3 separate regions of the Homo sapiens genome follow, and all the other regions are linked to region 1. Evidence: fine-mapped expression QTL. A gene starts in region 1. Each other region holds a variant in brackets. All regions are shown on one strand. Distances are between the middles of the regions. Region 1 holds the start of PGR (progesterone receptor). Region 2 overlaps PGR (progesterone receptor). Region 3 overlaps PGR (progesterone receptor).

What was found.
Region 2: its variant is fine-mapped to the expression of PGR in tibial artery (GTEx, PIP above 0.99).
Region 3: its variant is fine-mapped to the expression of PGR in esophagus muscle (GTEx, PIP above 0.99).

The regions. Positions count from the first base shown.
Region 1 is chr11:101,125,055-101,136,149 of GRCh38, reverse strand. PGR (progesterone receptor) reads left to right here and starts at 6,337. Exons shown (of 8, transcript NM_000926.4): 1 at 6,337-8,716; 2 at 9,992-10,143. The coding sequence starts at 7,080. It also overlaps PGR-AS1.
Region 2 is chr11:101,094,071-101,102,070 of GRCh38, reverse strand. The region is part of intron 2 of PGR (progesterone receptor); the gene reads left to right. Among named protein-coding and RNA genes, the nearest start is that of PGR, 32 kb to the left of the region's middle. The variant T/C (reference allele first, on the strand shown) is at 3,257.
Region 3 is chr11:101,068,099-101,076,098 of GRCh38, reverse strand. All of the region lies in intron 3 of PGR (progesterone receptor), which reads left to right. Among named protein-coding and RNA genes, the nearest start is that of PGR, 58 kb to the left of the region's middle. The variant A/C (reference allele first, on the strand shown) is at 4,038.

The sequences.
Region 1 (11,095 bases):
AATCCACTGATTGCAGCCATGTGAGCCCTAAGCAATGGATCCATCCAACCGATGCCCAGACTCCTGACCCATGGAAACTGTAAGATAATAACTGAGTGCTCTTTCAAGCTAGTAAGTTTGTGGTACTTCCTGACTCAGCAATGGAAAGCTAATATATACATCATCCAAAATACCAGCAAAAATATGAAATAATTGGAGAGAAATCTGACAAAAGATGTGAAAGACCTGTACACCGAAAGCTTGAAAACATTGCTGAGAGAAGGAGAGATATATTACCTGTATGGGTTGGAAGACTTAATTTTAGTGAGAAGCCAGTTCTCTCCAAATTCATCTATAATTTCAGCTCAATCCTAATCAACATTGCAGAAGGGTTTTTTTTGCAGATATTAACAAACTGTTTCTAACATTTACATGAAAATGCAAATGACCTAGACAAAACAATTTTGAAAAAGAAGAATAAAGTTGGAGCACTAGTACATTAAGTATCCGTGGGGGGAAGGGGGGCTCCACCCAGGAGGGAAGATGGTCTAGCCTTTAACTCTGTCCTACTGGGAAGGGAGCTAGGTGGCTGAGGGCTCTTCCATTTTGGCATTTCCATTTCTGGGGAGGGGGTTCAAAGTCACCAACACGCTGAGAGCTGTAGTTCAGAAACAGAAGTGGGGGGCCACTGTTACCACTCTGCTTAGAAACTTTATGGGTTGCCTCTCATGCAATCTGTAGCTTCAGAGCACACCTTCGATCCTGTCTCTTCCCTCAAACAGCTGTGGGCTGCCCCTCCTCACCCCCAGGGCTGGAAGGTTAGAGGAAGAATGCTATCATTTATACAGAGGGATTTAAAAAATAACAGCTTAAAAAATTACAGCTACATCAATCAAGAAAATGTATTGACATAAAAACTGTCCAATAATACAGTTAAATGGAATGGAGGGTACAGAAACAGATCTCCACATATTTGAATAACTAATTCTCAACAAAGGTGCAAAGGCAATTAGTGAAGGGGTATTCTTTTCAGCAAATGGCGCTGAAACAACTGGATATCCACATGCAAAAAAGTGAATTTTGATCTAGACCTTATACCATATTAAAAAGTAACTTTAAAATGTATCACAGATATAAATGTAAAACCTAAAACTATAAAGCCAAAAGAAAACATGACAGAAAACATTTATGACCTTGGGTTTAGCAAGGAATATTCAGTTATGACACCAAAAGCATAATTCATAAAAATGTAAATAAAGAGGCTTTATCAATATTAAAAACATCTGCTCTTCAAAAGATCCTGTTAAGAGAACTTAAAGACAAGCCACAGGCTAGAAAAAACTACTTTCAAATCCCATATATGACAATGGACTTCTAACAGAATTCATAAAGAACTCTGAAAATTCAACAATAACAAAACAATTCAATTTTTTAAAAAAAAGCAAACAAAAGATTTGAACAGACACAGACACACAGAAGAGGAATATATAAATATCACAAATAAGCACATGAAAACATGATCAACATCATTAGTCATTAATGAAATGCACATTGAAACCATAATGAGATACCACTATCTACTTGTTAGAATTGGTAAAATTAAAAATGCTGACTATATCAGTTGTTGTCCAGCTTTTGGAAGAATTAGAACTCTAATATACTGGGTGGAAATGTAAAATGATACAATCACTTTGGAAAATTGTTTGACGGTTAAATGTACATGTATTGTCTTGGTCCATTTGGGCTGCTATAACAAAATACCATGAACTAGGTAGCTTATAAACAGCAGAAACTTATTTCTCACAGTTCAGGAGGCTGGGAGTCCACAATAAAGGTGACAGATTCAATGTCTGGTGAAGACCTGCTTTGTAGCTCCTAGATGGCAACTTCTTATTGTGTACTCACATGGTAGAAGGGGCAGGGCAGTGCTCCATGACCTAATCACTCCCCAACACCTCCTCCTACTAAGACTATCACATTGGTGATTGGGTTTTGACACACAGATTTGGGGAGAACACAAACACTCATATCACAGCACCTACTAATTTATCCAGCCATTTCACTGCTAGGTATTTACCCAGAAAAAATGAAAACACATGTTCATACAAAGACTTGTACAACATTTTCATAGTAGCTCTATTTATAATACCAAAAAAATTGGAAACAACTCAGATATTTATCCACAGTTAAATGGATAAACAAACTATAGTATATAAATAAAAAGAATAAAAAGAATTAACTATTGATACATACTATAATTTAGCTGAATCTCAAAATAATTATGCTGAGTGAGAGAAACCAAATGAAAAAAAGATACACTATATTATATACAATTCTAAGAAATAAAACCTAATTTATTTGGCACCCAGATCTTCATTTCTATACCAGTTTCAAATAAAAAGTCTCAAACTTCCTTGGATAAATGGCTGATTCTACGACTGGGGCAGGAAATATACAAGATGAGTCTGATGAGTCTGTAGCATCTTGTAATACCAGAAAGTAGGAAAGTCCACACATACACACACATACACACAATACAGAGAGTGGGTCAAGGAGCACAAGAGTCAACTGAAAAAGCCCCCAGTGCCAAAAACTGGAAAAATTTGAGCAACAAAGTATTCATGAATCCATACAAAGAAAAGACTGAATAAAGAAGTAAATGGGGGAGAAGAAGCAAATCTTCCTCACAGAATTCCAAATAAATTATGTAGATACTCCACTCCAAAGGAGGGCTAGCATAACTCCCTACTCCCCCACACTTCCTTAAGTGACTCATAATGATTTCCTTCCAAAGAGTACAGAGTATGCAAAGAGGGAAAAAAGAGTAACTATGCAATGGAGAAACCTGACAAACACTACTTCAGCCAGGTGATGGAGAACAACATTAACAGTCATAAGTCATGTTGACAATATGTACCCTTCATATGATGTAATAAATACAGTACATTACCTCTTTGATTTCCACCCCGCCAAAACCCAAAACCCTAGTCTACTCATGAGGATACATCAAATCCCAATAGAAGGGCATCTTGCAATATACCTCACCAGTACTCCTAAGGACTGTCAAGGTCATCAAATACAAGGAAAATCTGAGAAACTCTCACAGCCAAGAGGAGCACAAGACATCATAACAATTAAATGTGGTGTCCTGGATGGAATCCTGGAAAGGAAAAAGGACATTAAGTGAAAATGAAGAAAATCTAAATAAACTATGAATATTAGTTAATAACAATTTATCAGTATTAGTTCATTAATTGTAACAAATGTACCCTATTAATTTAAAATGCTAACAGAGAAAATTGTACAAATGATATATGAGCATTCTCTATATTATCTGCTCAATTTTTCTGTAAATCCAAAATCGTTTCCCAAAAGTAAAATCTATTAATAAAACATCTAAAGCAAACAGACCTAAAAGGCATATGCAAATGTATAATTTAATGTTTAATAAATCAGATATAAATATTTTTAAAAACCTAATATTTGGTGACAGAAAGCAGATTAGTGGCTTGCCAGAAAGTGGTGATTAGTACTAGGGGAAGGGGATGGGACAGAACAGTATGAAGGGATTTAAAAAATGGCATGAGGAAACTTTTGGAGGCAAAGGGTATGTTTATCATTTTAGTTTCACAGGTCTAACAACAAATTATACAATTTAAATATATGCAGCTTATTATATGACAACTATATCTTGATAAAGTGGTTTTTTTCCCCAAACTATAGAAAAAATACTTCCACATTTAAATCCTCTTCTCCAAAAACAGTCTTCAGGAATATTTGAAGTTAGCCCCATCACACCTGAATTTAATCAGTGAATTTTGTTCATTCAAAGATTCATACATTTGGGAAGTTCCTGTGCCAAAAATGCTAATCACCCAGCATCAAAATTTATGGAATAATGGTGATTTAGGACATGCTGGACATCTTTATTGTTGTTTTCCCACTTCAAGATTTTCAATCTTTTGGAAACAACCTCCCCAGACATTCTGACAAGGGAATTATTATAACCAACCAAAATCAAGCCAAATATAGTTTGTCAGATTTAAAATGAGGCCAAGTGCCAATTTTACAGCAGCGACCGGAAAATCAAATTATATGGCATCTGACATTTAAAATCACACTCCTAAGAAGGCTGTCATTTGATGTCTTGGGTTTGGGTTACAGTACTTAACTTTATAATACTGGGTAACCTTGTGCCTCAGTTTTCCCAACTATGAAATTGGGATAACAGTACCTATTTTGTGAGACTGTTGAAGGATTACAGTTAACACAGGTAAAAGGCTTACAAGACTACCTGGCAATGCTGTCCTGATTTTACAAATTCTATACACTGTGTGGCATTAGCCATCAGGAAAATATAAATAAATCAGTGAGATACCACTTCACACACTTGGGGGGCTATAACAAAAAAGACAGATAAAAAATGTTGTCAAAGATGTGAAGAAACTAGGACCCTTATTCACTGCTGGTGGAAATGTAAGAAGTACAATCATTTGAACCATAGTCTGGCAGTTACTCCAAAGACCACACCTAGAGTTGCCATATGAACCAGCAATTCCACTCCTATGCATATATCCAGGAGAAAGGAAAATATACGCTGCACAAAAACTTGTACATGAATGTTCATTAGCAGGATTTTTCATGGTAGCCAAAAGGTGTAAACAACCCAAATGTCCAACAACTGATAGAGATGGATAAATAAAATGTGGTTTATCCATACAATGAAATATTATTTGTCAATAAAAAGGAGTGAAGGAGTGAAGTACTGATTCATGTGGAACATGGATGAACCTTGATCCAAAATAGCCAAATCACAGGTACAAAAAGCATATTAGTGGCTGCTGGGAGATTTAGGCGGAAATGTGGAATAACTGCTAGTGGGTATTGAGATTTTAGAGTCATACTCATGTTACAAAATTAATAGTGCTGATGGTTGCACAACTCTGAGTACATGAAAAATCAATGAACTGATACTTTGAGTGAGCTGTATGATACTGGAATTACACCTCAATAAAGCATGGTAACTGTTTTAAGATAGGCTGGAAAGAGAAAGCCTGAAAACAACAATAATGATATTAATAAATTAGTTTACTTCTCTAGTCTCATATACTTCTGTGCCCACACTTGCTCCTGTTCTATTCATAATGGTCCCCTTGCAGTTGCCATATTATATCCTGCCATTTGATGCCCGGTGAACATTCTATACCTGCTTCCCAGAATTCTCTTTACCTTTCCTCTATCTGCCTAACTTCCACATATCTAAAATTAATCAGAGTAAACTATTTACTAGAACAACCAACTCCAAATCCTAGTAACCTAACATGATAAAGGTTTGTTTCTCACTCATATAGCCCCTCCCCAGATGATCGAGGGGTCCAGGCTCCTTACCTCTAGTGGCTCCCCCACCTTCTGGAGTCTTCTGCATTCTTTATACATGGTTGAGATAAACTATGAGTCATTAGCACAGCTAGACCTTGAGGTCCTACAAGAAAATTTGCAAATCATTCACTCTGTTTTGAACAAGGTATATTTAAGATGATGTTAAAATACCCAATGGTCTTGGGTCAAATACAGTTTATGACTGTGTATCTAAAATATATATTGCAATATTCTTCCCTTTTTCTACTGACTTCATGAATTTAGCGGGGATCCATTTTATAAGCTCAAAGATAATTACTTTTCAGACTAAGAATATTTAGGGTAAAAAGTACTGTTCAACATCTCTACTGAGGATGTTATGATGTAGCACACTGTATAAGCTGGAGCTAAAGGAAACTTTCCTTAAAGTGCTATTTACTAAAAATTGGAACACATTCCTTAAGACAAATCGAAGTGTGGCACACAACATCCAAACTTCCATCATAGATACAGAGGTGTTACCATCTCCCACTCCCAAATTTCTTTGTCACGCTGAGGATACTCAAGAGGAGCAGGACATGTTGGTCGCAGCAGGAGAAACTTGAAAGCATTCACTTTTATGGAACTCATAAGGGAGAGAATCTCTTATTTAGTATCGTCCTTGATACATTTATTATTTTAAAAGATAATGTAGCCAAATGTCTTCCTCTGTGTTAAATCTTTACAAAACTGAAATCTTAAAATGGTGACAAAAATTCTACTTCTGATAGAATCTATTCATTTTTCCAATTAGATAGGGCATAATTCTTAATTTGCAAAACAAAACGTAATATGCTTATGAGGTTCCATCCCAAAGAACCTGCTATTGAGAGTAGCATTCAGAATAACGGGTGGAAATGCCAACTCCAGAGTTTCAGATCCTACCGGTAATTGGGGTAGGGAGGGGCTTTGGGCGGGGCCTCCCTAGAGGAGGAGGCGTTGTTAGAAAGCTGTCTGGCCAGTCCACAGCTGTCACTAATCGGGGTAAGCCTTGTTGTATTTGTGCGTGTGGGTGGCATTCTCAATGAGAACTAGCTTCACTTGTCATTTGAGTGAAATCTACAACCCGAGGCGGCTAGTGCTCCCGCACTACTGGGATCTGAGATCTTCGGAGATGACTGTCGCCCGCAGTACGGAGCCAGCAGAAGTCCGACCCTTCCTGGGAATGGGCTGTACCGAGAGGTCCGACTAGCCCCAGGGTTTTAGTGAGGGGGCAGTGGAACTCAGCGAGGGACTGAGAGCTTCACAGCATGCACGAGTTTGATGCCAGAGAAAAAGTCGGGAGATAAAGGAGCCGCGTGTCACTAAATTGCCGTCGCAGCCGCAGCCACTCAAGTGCCGGACTTGTGAGTACTCTGCGTCTCCAGTCCTCGGACAGAAGTTGGAGAACTCTCTTGGAGAACTCCCCGAGTTAGGAGACGAGATCTCCTAACAATTACTACTTTTTCTTGCGCTCCCCACTTGCCGCTCGCTGGGACAAACGACAGCCACAGTTCCCCTGACGACAGGATGGAGGCCAAGGGCAGGAGCTGACCAGCGCCGCCCTCCCCCGCCCCCGACCCAGGAGGTGGAGATCCCTCCGGTCCAGCCACATTCAACACCCACTTTCTCCTCCCTCTGCCCCTATATTCCCGAAACCCCCTCCTCCTTCCCTTTTCCCTCCTCCTGGAGACGGGGGAGGAGAAAAGGGGAGTCCAGTCGTCATGACTGAGCTGAAGGCAAAGGGTCCCCGGGCTCCCCACGTGGCGGGCGGCCCGCCCTCCCCCGAGGTCGGATCCCCACTGCTGTGTCGCCCAGCCGCAGGTCCGTTCCCGGGGAGCCAGACCTCGGACACCTTGCCTGAAGTTTCGGCCATACCTATCTCCCTGGACGGGCTACTCTTCCCTCGGCCCTGCCAGGGACAGGACCCCTCCGACGAAAAGACGCAGGACCAGCAGTCGCTGTCGGACGTGGAGGGCGCATATTCCAGAGCTGAAGCTACAAGGGGTGCTGGAGGCAGCAGTTCTAGTCCCCCAGAAAAGGACAGCGGACTGCTGGACAGTGTCTTGGACACTCTGTTGGCGCCCTCAGGTCCCGGGCAGAGCCAACCCAGCCCTCCCGCCTGCGAGGTCACCAGCTCTTGGTGCCTGTTTGGCCCCGAACTTCCCGAAGATCCACCGGCTGCCCCCGCCACCCAGCGGGTGTTGTCCCCGCTCATGAGCCGGTCCGGGTGCAAGGTTGGAGACAGCTCCGGGACGGCAGCTGCCCATAAAGTGCTGCCCCGGGGCCTGTCACCAGCCCGGCAGCTGCTGCTCCCGGCCTCTGAGAGCCCTCACTGGTCCGGGGCCCCAGTGAAGCCGTCTCCGCAGGCCGCTGCGGTGGAGGTTGAGGAGGAGGATGGCTCTGAGTCCGAGGAGTCTGCGGGTCCGCTTCTGAAGGGCAAACCTCGGGCTCTGGGTGGCGCGGCGGCTGGAGGAGGAGCCGCGGCTGTCCCGCCGGGGGCGGCAGCAGGAGGCGTCGCCCTGGTCCCCAAGGAAGATTCCCGCTTCTCAGCGCCCAGGGTCGCCCTGGTGGAGCAGGACGCGCCGATGGCGCCCGGGCGCTCCCCGCTGGCCACCACGGTGATGGATTTCATCCACGTGCCTATCCTGCCTCTCAATCACGCCTTATTGGCAGCCCGCACTCGGCAGCTGCTGGAAGACGAAAGTTACGACGGCGGGGCCGGGGCTGCCAGCGCCTTTGCCCCGCCGCGGAGTTCACCCTGTGCCTCGTCCACCCCGGTCGCTGTAGGCGACTTCCCCGACTGCGCGTACCCGCCCGACGCCGAGCCCAAGGACGACGCGTACCCTCTCTATAGCGACTTCCAGCCGCCCGCTCTAAAGATAAAGGAGGAGGAGGAAGGCGCGGAGGCCTCCGCGCGCTCCCCGCGTTCCTACCTTGTGGCCGGTGCCAACCCCGCAGCCTTCCCGGATTTCCCGTTGGGGCCACCGCCCCCGCTGCCGCCGCGAGCGACCCCATCCAGACCCGGGGAAGCGGCGGTGACGGCCGCACCCGCCAGTGCCTCAGTCTCGTCTGCGTCCTCCTCGGGGTCGACCCTGGAGTGCATCCTGTACAAAGCGGAGGGCGCGCCGCCCCAGCAGGGCCCGTTCGCGCCGCCGCCCTGCAAGGCGCCGGGCGCGAGCGGCTGCCTGCTCCCGCGGGACGGCCTGCCCTCCACCTCCGCCTCTGCCGCCGCCGCCGGGGCGGCCCCCGCGCTCTACCCTGCACTCGGCCTCAACGGGCTCCCGCAGCTCGGCTACCAGGCCGCCGTGCTCAAGGAGGGCCTGCCGCAGGTCTACCCGCCCTATCTCAACTACCTGAGGTGAGGGCCCGGGACGGGGCACGCCCAGCGCGTCCGGGAGTAGCGGTTCCGTTGGCGGCGGCGGCCGCCAACCCTCAGCCCCAGCCCCAGCGCACCGCTGCGCTCCCCGGGGCGGCCGGAGAGGGTGGGCAGCGGGACACAGCACAGGGGCAGTTGCCTCCCTTCTTCTTCCCTCCTCTCCTCACTCTTGGGGACACGAAGGTGGGCGCAGAATATACTATTTTTGGGGCGTGCCTCCCTGAAAGCTGTTTTTTTGTTTGTTTTTTAACTTTCCGAATCTTCCAGATTCCGAAGCAGAACCAACCCCGATTTAAAACGTGCAGCGTCACACTAGGTCCGCTGTAGCCCAGTGGGGCAGAAAGTGCGCGGCGAGTTGGGGGCTTTATGAAATGCTTCTTTCTTAGAAGAAGGACGTTTACCAGGAGTGCTTGTCTTGGAGAGGAGTTAAGGCACCGTTCCCCCGGGAGGGGTGGGACTTGAGAGGTGGCCGGCCAGAACCGAAAGCAGCACCATCTTAGGGATTTGAACACTTCAGTGGCTCAGTTTTCTTAAGAATCTCAAGATTAAAATTAAGTTCACGTGGGAAATGTTTAAACTGTGGATTTAAACGCCTGTCACTGCATTGCACCGTTTTCTTATTATTGCTTGCTATTCACTACAATTTTTTTTATATACAGGTTTAAAAAACACTACTTTGCATACTGAAGTAATGGAATGTAAAAAAAGAATGCTCTGTTTGGAATCTTATGTTGTGAATAGGCAAAACAGTGTCAGTGTATTGGACAATACTTTAAAATGACAAACATATACTTGCTTAAGTAAGCAATGATTACAGGGTTGTGTTTTAAAAACTCAAAACCAAAACATTGCAAAGTACCATCGAACTTTTAAAGCCAAACCATATTTGTTTTGACCCAGCATACAGACAGGAAGGACATAACATTTCATTTGTCAAAGACTAAATTGTTTCTATATAAAGAGTTTTGTAGAAAGATTTCCTTTTAACCGACTTTAACTTTCTAGGACATAATATTATACACTAATTATTGTTCTTTTATATTGGTGCTACTGATGAATGGCTAATCATTTGCAAGTATGGTGAATCCAGTTACGGATAGTCTATTACCAAGTTTAGTTTGCATGTCTTTCAAGTGTATATATACAGTTCTGTTTTTAAAATCTCCTTTCACCCTGTTAATACTGGTTTAAGAAACCTTTAGTATTAGATAGTGGTGCACTTAAAAATAAATGGAGTACTTTGTTTTGCATTTCAAGGCCGGATTCAGAAGCCAGCCAGAGCCCACAATACAGCTTCGAGTCATTACCTCAGAAGATTTGTTTAATCTGTGGGGATGAAGCATCAGGCTGTCATTATGGTGTCCTTACCTGTGGGAGCTGTAAGGTCTTCTTTAAGAGGGCAATGGAAGGTAGGCTCCTTTCCCCTGATCCTTTATTATTGGTTTAATTGTAAATGGAGACCATCTAATATTGTATAGATTTCAATTATTCCTTGTTTCTTATAAGAAATGGTGATATTTCCATATAATTTAAAATATATGATGACATTTTAACAATATGTTTTTATTTATGATACTCAAAATGGAATGTGGTTGGGTACTATAATTGCATACTCTTTGACTAACACTTTCAGTATTAGACATAAGTCATAAAAATCTTGAGGACAGTGCTACTATTGTTCCTTAACTGCTTAGCTTTGAGGAAACAGCTTTGTTCTAATAGTACTTTTATATATCTATTATGTAGGTATATGTGTATGCAGTACTTTAAAATTTTGATTAAAAGAAAAATGGTAGTTGACACATATGTACATGTATGCGTATACATATTTGTACATACACGAACATATATCACAACATGTATATGATGCAGTTTTCTACATGATACTGTCTTTTGACTACATGAATATTTATGTAATATTTACAAAGAAGTAATTCTAAACAAATTTTTGAATTCTCTTTTTGTTCAGTATATTTTTGTAAGTGTATAAGAGGACAGGATTAAACAGTTTAAAATAAAAAACCTGGACATCACAGTAACATAATTTCTAAAGAAGTATTTTGCTTTAAGTAAAACTTTCATGTTTTTAAACTCATTGAACTTACATGCTTAATGATTTCAGATTTACTTGCATAGTGTTTCAGATTTTAACTTTCAAAGAAAATATTTTTGAATTTCTTTCTACCTAAAGTCTAAGCAGCCAAACATCTTTACATTTGAAGATAAAAATACATTGAAAGATTTCATATTTTAATACCAGCAATAAATGTATTCTATAACTATGTAAAATGAAGCTTAGGATTCCCTCTGGAGTGCTGAGATCACACCTAGACAAGGAACCAAGGATCTGAATGTTGGCTT
Region 2 (8,000 bases), 33 kb after region 1:
TCTAGGCCAGCCGTTTTGTAGAAAGTTCCATAATCTGGCTTTGTCTGATTTTTCCCCCACATAATTATATGCCAGTTAAACGTTTTGACAAGAATCCTACACAGGCCAACGGTTCTCAGACACTGATCTCATGACCCCCTTATGTGCTTAAAAATTGCTACAAGCCCAAAGAGCTTCTGTATACGTGAATTCTCTCTCTCAGTATTTACTGTGTTAGAAATTAAAACTCATAATGTTTTAAAACTTTTTATTAGCTCATTTAAAAAACAGCAAACCCATTAGATACTAATTTTTCAAACCAAAAAATTTAATGACAAGAATGACATTGTTTTACATTTTTATAAGTCATTTTAATGTCTATCTTAATAGAAGACAGCTGGATTCTCATATCTGGATCTACAGTCAATCTGTTCCAATATGTTGTTTTGGTGGAAGCATGGGAAGGAAATGTGGCCTCACACAGATATGTAGTTGGAAAATGGAGGAGTATTTTAATTGTCTTTTCAGACTTGACAAGTGGTGGCCATTTCATTAGGAATTGCAAAAGGATGATTCTCTATTTCTATTATCCCTTCTGATTTTATCAGCTATAAATATTTTTAATAGTTCTCTCTCTCTTCCAAGAGGCAATCTGGTAATCTTAAAATACACTTAATAATGGAAAGCCTAACAGATACTTATTATTTACTTTTAATTTTCAGTTTTCAAAGTTGTTAAGTTTGTGCCCTAGTAATCTCCAGTGGTTTCCAGTGAGTTCCTCTTGTTTCTTTCATTCTTTCTCTTCTTACATATCATTATGTACTCATGTTTTTTAAAATATATATTCAATGTGTTTTAATTACTTGAACCAGTTCTTTTTGATGTTCAAGTGGTTTTAATTTTGGTTGGTGTGAATTATCAGTGGTCAATGAAACACAATTTTATTAGCCCTCAGTAAAAGCAAATCATCTGTCACAGCAAAGCATCCCAGGCTCAACTTGCACATTTCCTGCCCTAGTCCTGGATCAGTCATTTCCCCAAGGAGCTCTGGTTCGTTTTAGATGAAAATTATATTACATGTGAAAATCTGAATTCCTGCTGGAGTTGTCTTTACTTTTGGGCATTTTCAGTGAAGAGACCTAGAAAATACCTCTTTTTGAAAAAGTAAGGGGATCATGAGTTTATACCATGATTTCTCAACCTCACACTATTGACCTATTGGGCCACATAATTGTTGCAGGGGGGGATGTCCTGTGCATTATGGGATGTTATTAGCCTTTTTGGCCTCTCTGCAATAATACCTACCCTCTAGTTGCATAAACCAAAATTGTCTCCAGATATTGTGAAATGTCCTGGTGAGGAAGGGAGCAAAATTGCCTCTAGTTGAGAATTACTGGTTTATGTTTGTATTTCTAGCAAAATCAAAATAATTACTAGTTGTTTTATCTGTATGTATTGTGTGTGTGTGTGTGTGTGTGTGTGTGTGGATTCAAAATACTAGTATCAGCATTATTACCTCTAACAACAAAACCTGCTTTGTAGACTAGTTCTTCCATCTCCTGCATAAAATCTTAGGCCAGTCCCAAAGATTTTAATCAGAAGAACAATCTCATTCCACTAACCGTATTAGTCTGTTCTCATGCTGCTGTGAAGAAATACCTAAGACTGGGTAATTTATAAAAGAAAGAGGTTTAATTGACTCACAGTTCCACATGGCTGGGAAGGCCTCAGGAAACTTACAATCATGGCCCAAGGGGAAGTAAACATGTCCTTCTTTACAAGGCAGCAGGAGAGAGAATGAGTGCCAGTAGGGGAAATGCTAGACTCTTATAAAACCATCAGATCTCATGAGAATTCACTGATTGATCACACTGCTCATGATGATCACGAGAAGAGCATGGGGGGAAACCACCCCCATGATTCAATTACCTCCCACTGAGTTCCTCCCACAACATGGGGGGATTATGGGATTACAATTCAAGATGAGGTTTGGGTGGTGACACAAAGCCAAACCATATCAGTAATCAAAATGCCCAGGGAAGCATTATGCCAAATTTACAAATCCTCTTCTAAGTTTAGATTTCTTCTTTGCCCCAATTCAGCACTCACTGCTTTGAGCTTGAAGCCTAAAGGGAAGAACAAATAAGATCTGCTTCTTCTCTGTTTATGCTGCCTACACTCACCCAATGACAGCTGATTTTGACCCTTCCAGGGCCAACGTGTGGGAAGAGAAGTTAGAGAGCACAGTTTTACACAACAAGTAGGAATTTTAGTGTCACTGGGGTTATCTGTGTTTGGTGGGTGATTACAGGCTGCTCTTCCTCTAGTGGGATACTTTGGTGAGATTCATGGAGATACTTTACTGAGAGCCTCTAACTGTAATCCTGTAATGCTGTAATGCAGTAGACACCTCTCTTCTCTCTGGACATGACCGTGACCCTCTGCTTCTGGACTTCCGCTGACTGACCCTACACAGATTCTGTTGGATCACAATACTCTCTAGGTTGTCCTCTTAGCTGGAGCCAGTTTTTAAAAGAAAGAAACTTTTATTGATAAATATTTTCAGAAAAGCACTCAAAGATGTAGAGCTTATCAGTAGGTAAATGAAACGATGTTATTATCACCCAGACCAAAAAATTTAAAGATCATTAGGTTCCCAGAAGCTCCATTTTGCCCCTTCCAATCATTCCCCAAAAGTAACCGCCATCCCAATTTCTAACATGATAGATTGGTTTGAACTATTTTAGAACTTTATATTAATGGAATCAGATAGTATTTTTCTATGTCTGCTTATTTTACACAACATTATACTTATGTAGTTCATCCACATTTTGCATGGAGCTAGACATTTATTCTCATTGCTGTATAATAATGCATTGAATAAATAAAACCATTTGTTTACACATTATGCTGTAGGTGATCATTTGGGTTGTTTTCAGATTGAGGCTATTATGAACACTGCTGCTATAAATATTCTTGTACAAATCTTTTATTTTTTGCATGTGGACACACCTGTCCCTACAGATAAGCTTTTCATTTGCCTCTCCAAGGACCCTGGCAATTTCACTGGTCCTGTACCAGTCTTTGTTCCTTGGCCCAGGTTCCTATACCATGTGATAGTGAAAATTCACCTCCCATTAAAGGCCAATATTTTATTTTGTTTATGTTGTTTTTGGCATAAATGATTTTTGTCCTCACCCTGAATTTTGGACAGATTCCTGGCTGCCTGGCATTTTCTGTGTAGTGTTTTCTAGCCCTGTTTTCATTGCTAAGGCAG[T/C]CTTTTAAGGTTCTACATTTTTATGCATATAGTTCAGCCCTGCCACTCTCTTCCATTGGGACTGAAGTAATATATCCCATCCTCTCATGGGCTTTAAACCCCATTTCTTATCTTTTAGGCATTTCTTATATCTGTATCTGAAACTTTTTTGGATCACTGCAGAGTCCAGTTAAGTTTGTTCCTCCAGCTTTCATTTCTTTTTTCTTTTCTGGCTTATAGAGATTTACCTACCTTTTTTTCCAGACTGAAATTAAGCAACATGCTTCTATTATATTTTATCCAGTATTTCTGTGTTTGTGGTAGAAAGATTGCCCTCATATGGACCAGCTCATGTTGCTTCAAGCCCGTGACTTGTGGGTCATACCATACTGACTTTCACTATTTCATTCCTTAAACTACTGAACATATATTATTTCCTGCCATTTGACTATGTATTTTCCCCTTCTTTTCAAAAATGCCATGAAAAATTGTGAACTCTCTCAGACCTAAGTGAACTATGTTCACTTGTGCTCATATTGAGAAGCAACACAAACAATATAGGTCTCTTATTTTACAGGTAAGTCCCTTTCTTGTTTCTAATAAAGATATTTTATTTCCTAATAAAGATATTTTATTTCCTTTAAAGTGGAATTTTGTCATCTAAAATTTTTGTAAGTCACTAGGCAAATAAAATGATCTAATCACATTTTGATAGTGCTTTTATTTTCACAGAGTATTTTTTATTAAGAGTAACACTTGGGGCTGGGCACGGTGGCTCACGCCTGTAATCTCAGCACTTCAGGAGGCCGAGGCAGGAGGATCACAAGGTCAGGAGATCGAGACCATCCTGGCTAACACGGTGAAACCCCATCTCTACTAAAAATACAAAAAATTAGCCAGACGTGGTGGTGGGCGCCTGTAGTTCCAGCTACTCGGGAGGCTGAGGCAGGGGAATGGCATGAATCCAAGAGGCAGAGCTTGCAGTGAGCTGAGATGGCTCCACCGCACTCCAGCCTGAGCGACGGAGCGAGACTCCGCTCAAAAAAAAAAAAAAAAAGAGTAACACTTGGAAATAATCTTGTTAGACTTCACATTTAATTATGGTCTATTACTATAAAAAGGTGAGAAATTACTGAATAAAAAGCATTCTGTAAGAAAAAAAGTTAAAAGGTGGTAAAAAATCAGAAGCAAGTGACTATTTACTATATATGACAATAAGTGACATATGTCTTATACTGTTGAGTATAACTATATTTACAAATATAAGCGAAACAATAGGTATAATTGTATATACACCTATCTAAAAAATATTTATCAAGCTGTATTTTACACAAGAGTTAAAAGTATCAAACTGAGTAGTTCCTACTCTTATAGAACCTAGTAGCTATAGACACAAAGTATACAATAGGAATACATTGAATGTGCAGTTGGTACACAGAAGAAATGTCTAAAGCCTTTATGAGAGCAGTCAGGTAAGACCAGATGAGGGGAGCAGTTAAGCCAAGGCTTGAAAGACGAGTGAGATTTTGTTAAGTTGATAAATTGGAAGGAAGGGAGGAAAGTCATAGAGGCATGAGAGAGTTTGGGGGTAATCCAAGGATGTTAGTACTCTGGAGCATAAAGAACATGGGAAAGAGTATGTGATTAGAAAGAAAAGACATAACAGTTTGAACTCACCCCCTGCTTTCCCCACCCTAAAATAGATCAGTTTTGCAAGGAGAAAGAAGCATAGTGCTCTATTAAGCTCCCCAGGTTTCAACAGGGGCAGATGATGCATATATTAAGGGAGAGAGCTAGATAGTGGCTCCTAGTGGGGTGAACTCCCCTATTTATCATTATGCCATGTAACCTGTTTGTGGTGGCTTATAGCTTATAAGTGTTCCTAAATGTCTTATAACTCCTGGTGGTGATAATGTAGGTAAACAGCAAAGATGGCAGCAAATGGAATGCTCTGAGTGGTTTAATATAGTGACGTGTTTTACACTTGTTGTAGAATCACAATGTTATGTTGGACTGAGGAGAAGAAATAATACGCAATTTGAGCCATCAACCTACGGTTTATGAGTGAGTGAGTGGATCTAGACAGGGATGTGTTTCTCAAAACCAGAATATAAACTGTGGGCTGTTGTCTGAAGAAAATGGTAGCAACTGATGTTATGTTAGATTTTCATCTTTTTCTAGATTTCCAGGAAAATGTTGTGACAGGGCTAATGCACTTGTGCCTGACCTTTCTTCACCTGCATATACAGCCAGGTACCTGAAGTAGCGAGTGGCTCCCACTGCATTCATTGCATTCTTGGTGGCTCTGAGTCCTGGCCATGCATTATGGTTCAGAGGCAATGCCTGGGCCCCATGCCAAATTCCCTTAGTCGGCTCTAGTTGGAACTGGCTGGCTACAACATTTCTTTAAGCCAAAACATTGCTTGAGAAGATAAACCTTTAACTGTACTCCCCATATTTTGTTTGCATGATAATGCATCTACTTTGCAGTTTTGATGGCTCATCACTTAATGTTAAAGATGATGAAAAGTTAGAGTGAATTGAGCTTCCAGATTTCTTTAAGCCATTCCAGCCTGTCACAGGCAGTCTACAATGATATGAGTCGTGCCAACCCCTCAAGGTCGTGACTTCATGCCAGTGCCCTTAATTATTAAAAATTATCCTTCCAACTCAAACTTTAAATATTGGACATCTAAGTCATTTTTTCTTCCAAACTTATAAGAATTGCATTCTGTTTGGTAACTATAATTTCCTTATTTATACTCATGTTTAAATTTATACTTATGTTTAAATTTATTTGGTACTTATCATCAGTCTCTTCATACCAGACTTCCTACCTCATACATTGTCTGCTATAACGTATCTGTTGTTGACTGGATTACATCTTTTGGAAGAGCATACTGGGGTCTTATTTCCCAATTTCATGCAAGTTTGAGAATATCTTTAAGTTGCCTTTAAAACTGAATAACTTGACTAGATATAGACTTCTTGGACCACATCTAGAAAAAATCTAACTATATTTGAGATTTAGATGTGTGATAATCATAATTATAATAGACATTTGTTAAGTACTTGCTATGTGCCAGACTATTCTAAGCTCTTACATGAGCTTGTGTATTCCTTAGATCCAATCCAAGGTACTAATGTTATCTTCATTTTAATTGCCAAATGTCATCTAGCTACTAAGTGATGAGATTGACATTCACACTTAAACAGTAACTTTCTATACTACCTCTCAAGATAATTAACCTAAAATGTTTTAACTGTGTGACCTTGAGCATGTTATTTAACTTCTAGATGCCTCAGTTAACTCTGTATAAAATGAGAATATTAATACCTCCAAAGGTTGCTTTGATGATGAAATGAGTTAATATATGTCAATAGCTCATAACAATGCCTGGCACATAGTAAGTGCTTAATAATTGTCTGTTGTTCTTTTATTATTTTTATTTGTGGATAGTAAGTTGCAGATCTGAGCTTTGAACAAGCAGTCTGGCCTCTGTAACTTTGCTCTTCGGTACTACAATGTAGTGTCAGCAATTAAGATGGCATTTTAATTTAGTGGGGGAAAACATGGATTAGTCAGTAAATAGTGTTGGGATATAGTAGATACTCAATACTTGTTGAATGAATGAGAGTTTTATAAAAGTATAAATACATTAACTTAAATATTAACAAATAGATATTAAATACCATTTAGATTTGTATAGACAGTTTGGAAATACTTTAGTCTGTTCCACTGCAATAAAAAAATACCTTAGACTGGGTAGTTTATAAATACAGAAATATTTTCTGATGGTTCTAAAGGCTGAGAAGTCCAAGATCAAGGTGGCACAGATTCCATGTCTGGTAAAAGCTTGCTGTCTTCTTCCAAGATGGCGCCCCTTGCTGCATCCTCACATGGCAGAAAGGATAAAAAGGACCAAATTCACTCCCTCAAGCCCTTTTAAAAGGGTACTGATTCCATCCATGGAGGCAGAGACCCCACCTCTTAATATTGTCACATTGGGGATTAAGTTTCAATATGAATTTTGAAGGGGACACAAACATTCAAACCATAGCAAGAAGGAAGCAAAAATGAGAATAGATGCATGATTATCAAATTGTAGGTTATTTTCTGTTTTGAATTTCCTTACGTTCTTATATAATTTCTCTAATAATACAATTCATGATATAATTTGTACAGATAACCACTTAGTTGTATTTTGTATATATTGAGTTTGAGGTACCTAGAAATATGACTGGAAGGTCAGAGCTCATATTGAGATTTTGGGACCATCAGAAGATAATGAGACAGACTACCCACAAAGTGTGTGCAGTGGCACACCACATATAAGGAATAAGCAAAGTAAGAGGAGTTGACAAAGGGAATTTAAAAGGAAGTGCTGGAAAGACAGGTCAAGAGTCAGAAAAGAGAGGCCCCAAAATATGAATCAATGGGACAGGTGGGGAAAGAAATTACCTGAAGCAAATGATTCAGGTCAGGAAAGCATTCACAGCATTTAGGAATGAAAAAATATTTGATGATGTTAAGCCATTTTATAAGAATAGTGAATATACAAGTCAAATTACCACATAGGAATAAAGGAAGTTAGGTAGAAACAGCAAATGTAGATGATGTTTTCGACAACTTTGAGGACCAAAAAAAGGGGAATGTATTCAGGGAGAATCTAGAGTGAGCTAGGGTTCCTTTTTTTGGTGCTGGAACTTTTTTGGATGGAAAAATAATGAGAGAGCAGGACATCACTGGACTGGAGAGACTAAA
Region 3 (8,000 bases), 59 kb after region 1:
CTTTATCCAGTCTATCATTGATGGGCATTTGGGTTGGCTCCAAATCTTTACTATTGTGAATAGTGCTGCAGTAAACATACGTGTGCATGTGTCTTTATGGTACAATGATTTATAATCCTTTGGGTACATACCCAGTAACGGGATTGCTGGGTCAAATGGTATTTCTGGTTCTAGATCCTTGAGGAATCACCACACTGTCTTCTACAATGGTTGAACTAATTTACACTGCCACCAACAGCGTAAAAGCTTTCCTATTTCTCCACATCTTTTCCGGCATCTATTGTTTCCTGAGTTTTTAATGGTCATCATTCTAACTGGCATGAAATGGCATCTCATTGTGGTATTGATTTGCATTTCGACCAGTGATGATGAGCTTTTTTTTCATGTTTATTGCCCACATAAATGTCTTCTTTTGAGAAGTGTCTGTTCATATCCTTTGCCCACTTTTTGATGGGGTTGTTTTTTGTTTTTTTTTTTGTAAATTTGTTTAAATTCTTTGTAGCTTCTTGATAGTAGTCCTTTGTTAGATGGATAAATTGCAGAAATTTTCTCCCATTCTGTAGGTTGCCTGTTCACTCTGATGATAGTTTCTTTTGCTGTGCAGAAGGTCTTTAGTTTAATTAGATCCCATTTGTCAATTTTGTCTTTTGTTGCCATTGCTTTTGGTGTTTTAGTCATGAAGTCTTTGCCCATGCCTATGTCCTGAATGATATTGCCCAGGTTTTCCTCTAGGGTTTTTATGGTTTTCAGTCTTACATTTAAGTCTTTGATCTATCTTGAGTTAATTTTTGTATAAGGTGTAAGGAAGGGGTCCACTTTCAATTTTCTGTATATGGCTAGCCAGTTTCCCCAACACCATTTATTAAATAGGGAATCCTTTCCCCATTGCTTTTTTGGTCAGATTTGTCAAAGATCAGATGGTAGATGTGTGGCATTATTTCTGAGGCCTCTGTTCTGCTTCATTGGTCTATATATCTGTTTTGGTACCAGTACCATGCTGTTTTGGCTACTGTAGCCTTGTAGTATAGTTTGAAGTCAGCTAGCCTGATGCCTCCAGCTTTGTTCTTTTTGCTTAGGATTGTCTTGGTTATATGGGCTCTTTTTTGGTTCCATAGGAAATTTAAAGTAGTTTTTTCTAATTCTATGAAGAAAGTCAATGTTAGCTTGTTGGGGATAGCATTGAATCTATAAATTACTTTGGTCAGTATGGCCATTTTCATGATATTGATTCTTCTGATCCATGAGCATAGAGTGTTTTTCCATTTGTGTCCTCTCTGATTTCCTTGAGCGTTGATTTGTAGTTCTCCTTGAAGGGGTCCTTCACATTTCTCGTGACTTGTATTCCTAGCTATTTTACTCCTTTTGTAGCAATTGTGAATGGGAGTTCAGTCATGTTTGGGCTCTCTGTTTGTCTATTATTGGTGTATAGGAATGCCTGTGATTTTTGCACATTTATTTTGTATCCTGAGACTTCACTGAAGTTGCTTATCAGCTTAAGGAGATTTTGGGCTGAGATGATGGAGTTTTCTAAATATACAATCATGTCCTCTACAAAAAGACACAGTTTGACTTCCTCTCTTCCTATTTGAATACGCTTTATTTCTTTCTCTTGCCTGATTGCCCTGGCCAGAACTTCCACTACTATGTTTAATAGCAGTGGTGGGAAAGGACATCCCTGTCTTGTGCTGGTTTTCAAAGGGAATGCTTTCAGCTTTTGCCTATTCATTATGATATTCGCTGTGGGTTTGCCATAAATAGCTCTTATTATTTTGAGATACGGTCCATCAATACCTAGCTTATTGAGAGTTTTTAGCATGAAGGGGTGTTGAATTTTGTTAAAGGCCTTTTCTGCATCTATTGAGATAATCATGTGGTTTTTGTCATTGGTTCTGTTTATGTGATGGATTACGTTTATTAATGTGCGTATGTTGATCCAGGCTTTCATCTCAGGGATGAAACTGACCTGATCATGGTGGATAAGCTTTTTGATGTGCTGCTGGATTTGGATTGCCAGTATTTTATTGAGGATTTTTGCATCAATATTCATCAGGGATATTGGCCTGAAATTTTCTTTTTTGTTGTTTCTCTGCCGGGTTTTGGTGTCAGGATGATACCAAATAAAATGAGTTAGGGAGGATTCCCTCTTTTTCTATTGTTTGGAATAGTTTTAGAAAGAATGGTGCCAGCTCCTCCTTGTATCTCTGGTAGAATTCAGCTATGAATCTGTCTGGTCCTGGGGTTTTTTTGGTTGGTAGGCTATTAATTACTGCCTCAATTTCAGAACTTGTTATTGGTCTATTCAGGAATTCAACTTCTTCCTGGTTTCATCTTGGGAGGGTGTATGTGTCCAGGAATGTATGCATTTCTTCTAGATTTTCTAGTTTATTTTCATAGAGGTGTTTATAGTATTCTCTGATGGTAGTTTGTATTTCTGTGGGATCACTGGTGATATCCCCTTTATCATTTTTTATTGTGTCTACTTGATTCTTCTCTCCCTTCTTTATTAGTCTGGCTAGTGGTCTATCTACTTTGTTAATCTTTTCAAAAAACCAGCTCCTGGATTCATTGATTTTTTTTTTTTAAGGGTTTTTCATGTCTCTATCTCCTTCGGTTCTGCTCTGGTCTTAGTTATTTCTTGTCCTCTGCTAGCTTTTGAATTTGTTTGCTCTTGCTTCGCTAGTTCTTTTAATTGTGATATTAGCGTGTCAATTTTAGATCATTCCCACTTTCTCCTGTGGACATTTAGTGCTATAAATTTCCCTCTAAACAAACACTGCTTTAGCTGTGTCCCAGAGATTCTGGTATGTTGTGTCTTTGTTCTCATTGGTTTCAAATAACTTATTTATTTCTGCCTTAATTTCATTATTTATGCAGTAATCATTCAGGAGCAGGTTGTTCAGTTTCCATGTAGTTGTGCAGTTTTGAGTGAGTTTCTTAATCCTGAGTTCTAATTTGATTGCACTGTGGTCTGAGAAACTGTTTGTTATTATTTCCATTCTTTCACATTTGCTGAGGAGTGTTTTACTTCCAATTATGTGGTCAATTTTAGAATAAGTGCAATGTGGTGCTGAGAAGAAGGTATATTCTGTTGATTTGGGGTAGAGAGTTCTGTAGATGTCTCTTAGGTCCACTTGGTCCAGAGCCTGAGTTCAAGTCCTGGATATCCTTATTAATTTTCTGTCTTGTTGATCTGTCTAATATTGACAGTAGGGTGTTAAAAGTCTCCCCCATTAATGTGTGGGTGTCTAAGTCTCTTCATAGGCCTCTAAGAACTTGCTTTATGAATCTGAATGCTCCTGTATTGAGTACGTATTTTTAGGATAGTCAGCTCTTCTTGTTGCATTGATCCCTTTACCATTATGTAATGGCCTTCTTTGTCTTTTGATCTTTGTTGGTTTAAAGTCTGTTTTATCAGAGACTAGGATTGCAACCCCTGCCTTTTTTAGCTTTCCATTTGCTTGGTAAATATTCCTCCATCCCTTTATTTTGAGCATATTGTGTCTCTGCCTGTGAGATGGGTCTCCTGAATATAGCACACCAATGGGTCTTGACTCTTTATCCAGTTTGCTGGTCTGTGTCTTTTAATTGGGGCATTTAGCCCATTTACATTTAAGGGTAATAGTATTATGTGTGAATTTGATCCTGTCATTATGATGCTAGCTGGTTATTTTGCCCATTAGTTGATGCAGTTTCTTCCTAGCATCGATGGTCTTTACAATTTGGCATGTTTTTGCAGTGGCTGGTACCGGTTGTTCCTTTCCATGTTTAGTGCTTCCTTCAGGAGCTCTTGTAAGGCAGGCCTCGTGGTGACAAAATCTCTCAGCTTTTGCTTGTCTGTAAAGGAGTTTATTTCTCCTTTGCTTATGAAGCTTAGTTTGGCTGGATATGAAATTCTGGGTTGAAAATTCTTTTCTTTAGAAATGTTGAATATTGGCCTCCACTCTCTTCTGGCATGTAGGGTTTCAGCAGAGAGATCTGCTGTTAGTCTGATGGGCTTCCCTTTGTGGGTAACCCGACTTTCTCTTTGGCTGCCCTTA[A/C]CGTTTTTTCCTTCATTTCAATCTTGGTGAATCTGACAGTTATGTGTCTTGGGGTTGCTCTTCTCGAGGAGTATCTTTGTGGTGTTCTCTGTATTTCCTGAATTTGAATGTTGGCCTGTCTTGCTAGGTTGGGGAAGTTCTCCTGGATACTATCCCGAAGAGTGTTTTCCAACTTGGTTCCATTCTCCCCGTCACTTTCAGGTACACCAATCAAACGTAAGTTTGGTCTTTTCACATAGTCCCATATTTCTTGGAGGCTTTGTTTGTTCCTTTTCATTCTTTATTCTCTAATCTTGTATTCATGCTTTATTTCATTCAGTTGATCTTCAATCTCTGATATCCTTTCTTCTGCTTGATAAATTTGGCTGCTGATATTTGTGTATGCTTCACACAGTTCTTGTGCTGTGTTTTTCAGCTCCATCAGGTCATTTATGTTCTTCTCTAAAATGGTTATTCTAGGTAGCAATTCCTCTAACCTTTTTTCAAGGTTCTTAGCTTCCTTGCATTGGGTTAGAACATGCTCCATTAACTCAGAGGAGTTTGTCATTACCCGCCTCCTGAAGCCTACTTCTGTCAATTTGTCAAACTCATTCTCCGTCCAGTTTTATTCCCTTGCTGGTGAGGAGTTGTGATCTTTTGGAGGAGAAGAGGCATTCTGATTTTTGGAATTTTCAGCCTTTTTGCACTGGTTTTTCCTCATCTTCATGGATTTATCTACCTTTGGTCTTTGATGTTGGTGACCTTCAGATGGGGTTTTTGTGTGGACATCCTTTTTGTTGATGTTGATGCTATTCCTTTCTGTTTGTTAGTTTTCCTTCTAACAGTCAGGCCCCTCTGCTGCAGGTCTGCTGGAGTTTGCTGGAGGTCCACTCCAGACCCTGTTTGCCTGGGTATCACTAGCGGACTCTGCAGTACAGCAAAGATTGCTGCCTGTTCCTTCCTCTGGAATCTTCATCCCAGCAGGGCACCCACCAGATTGCCAGCCAGAGCTCTCCTGTGTGAGGTGTCTGTCGACCCCTGCTGGGAGGTATCTCCCAGTCAGGAGGCACAGGGGTCAGGGACCCACTTGAGGAGGCAGTTTGTCCTTTAGCAGAGCTTGAGCACTGCGCTGGGAGATCCGCTGGTCTCTTCAGAGCCAGCAGGCAGGAACGTTTAAGTCTGCTGAAGCTGCGCCCACAGCCACCCCTTCCCCCAGGTTCTCTGTCCCAGGGAGATGGGAGTTTTATGTATAAGCCCCTGACTGGGGCTGCTGCCTTTCTTTCAGAGATGCCCTGCCCAGAGAGGAGTCTAGAGAGGCAGTCTGGCTACAGCAGCTTTGCCATGCTGCAGTGGGCTCTGCCCAGTTTGAAGTTCCAGGTGGTTTTGCTTACACTGTGAGGGGAAAACTGCCTACTCAAGCCTCAGTAATGGTGGACGCCCCTCCCACCACCATGCTCCAGCGTCCCAGGTCGACTTCACACTGCTGTGCTGGCAGCGAGAATTTCAAGCCAGTGAATCTCAACTTACTGGGCTCTGTGGGGATGGTATCTGCTGAGCTAGATCACTTGGCTCCCTGGCTTCAGCCCCCCTTCCAGGGGAGTGAATGGTTCTGTCTCACTGGCATTCCAGGTGCCACTGGGGTATGAAAAAAAACTCCTGCAGCTAGTTCATTGTCTGCCCAAATGGCTGCCCAGTTTTGTGCTTGAAACCCAGGGCCCTGGTGATTTAGGCACCCAAGGGAATCTCCTGGTCTGTGGGTTGCAAAGACCATGGGGAAAGCATAGTATCTGGGCCGGAACACATTGTTCCTTACAGCACAGTCACTCACGGCTTCCCTTGGCTAAGGGAGGGAGTTTCCCCACTCTTTGTACTTCCCGGGTAAGGCAATGCCCCACCCTGCTTCAGCTCGCTCTCCATGGGCTGTAGCTACTGTCTAGCCAGTCCCAATGAGATGAGGTGGGTACCTCAGTTGAAAATGCAGAAATCACCCACCTTCTGTGTTGATCGCGTTGGGAGCTACAGACCGGAGCTATTCCTATTCAGCCATCTTGCCAGCCAGCAACCACTCTACTTTTTTTTTTTTTAATTTAAGTTCTGGGATACATGTACAGAATATGCAGGTTTGTTACATAGATATACATGTGCCATGGTGGTTTGCTGCACCCAACAATCCATCATCTACATTAGATGTTTCTACTAGTGCTATCCCTCCCCTAGCTCCCCACCCCTCAACAGGCCCTGGTGTGTGATGTTCCTCTCCCTGTGTCCATGTGTTCTCATTGTTCACCTCCCACTTATGAGAGAATATGCAGTGTTTGGTTTTCTGTTCTTGTGTTAATTTACTAAGAATGGTTTCCAGCTTCATCCATGTCCCTGCAAAAGACATGAACTCATCCCTTTTGATGGCTGCATAGTATTCCATGGTGTATATGTGCCACATTTTCTTTATCCAGTCTCTCACTGATGAGGATTTGGGTTGGCTCCAAGTCTTTGCTATTGTGAATACTGCTGCAGTAAACATACATGTGCATGTGTCTTATGGTACAATGATTTATAATCCTTTGGGTATATACCCAGTAATGGGATTACTGGGTCAAATGGCATTTCTGGTTCTAGATCTTTGAGGAATCATCACACTGTCTTCTACAGTGGTTGAACTAATTTACACTCCCACCAACAGTGTAAAAGCTTTCCTATTTCTCCACATCCTCTCCAGCATCTGTTGTTTCCTGACTTTTTAATGATCGCCATTCTAACTGGTGTGAGATGGTATCTCATTGTGGTTTTGATTTGCATTTCTCTCATGACCAGTGAAGATGAGCTTTTTTCCATGTTTTTTGGCCACATAAATGTCTTCTTTTGAGAAGTGTCTATTCATACCCTTCACCCACTTTTTGATGTTTTTTTTTTCTTGTAAATTTGTTTAAGTTCCCTGTAGACTCTGGATATTAGCCCTTTGTCAGATGGATAAATTGCAGAGATTTTCTCCCATTCTATAGGTTGCCTGTTCACTCCGATGATAGTTTCTTTTGCTGTGCAGAAGGTCTTTAGTTTAATTAGATCCCATTTGTCAATTTTGTCTTTTGTTGCCATTGCTTTTGGTGTTTTAGTCATGAAGTCTTTGCCCATGCCTATGTCCTGAATGGTATTGCCTAGGTTTTCTTCCAAGGTTTTTATGGTTTTAGGTCTTATGTTTAAGTCTTTAGTCCATCTTGAGTTAATTTTTGTATTAGGTGTAGGGAAGGGGTCCACTTTCAGTTTTCTGCATATGGCTAGCCAGTTTCCCCAACACCATTTATTAAATAGGGAATCCTTTCCCCATTGTTTTTTTTGGTCAGGTTTGTCAAAGATCAGATGGTTGTAGATTTGTGACGTTACTTCTGAGGCCTCTGTTCTGTTCTATTGTTCTATATATCTGTTTGGGTACCAGTACCATGCTGTTTTAGTTACTGTAGAGTTGAAGTATAGTTTGAAGTCAGGTAGCATGATACCTCCAGCTTTGTTCTTTTGACTTAGGATGTCTTGGCTATACAGGCTCTTTTTTGGTTCCATATGAAATTTAAAGTAATTTTTTTCTAATTTTGTGAAGAAAGTCAATGTTAGCTTGATGGAGCTATTATTGGATCTATAAATTACTTTGGTCACTATGGCCATTTTCAAAATATACATTCTTCCTATCTATGAATATGGAATGTTTTTCCATTTGTTTGTGCCCTGATTTCCTTGAGCAGTGTTTTGTAGTTCTCCTTGAAGAGGCCCTTCACATCCCTTGTAAGTTGTATTCCTGGGCATTTAATTCTCTTTGTAGCAATTGTGAATGGGAGTTCACTCATGATTTGGCTCTCTGTTTGTCTATTATTGGTGTATAGGAATGACTGTGATTTTTGCACATTGATTTTGTATCCTAAGAATAAGCCATACTTTTTAATATATTTTATTCATAAAAAAATGCACATAAAGCAAATGACATATAGAAACAATATG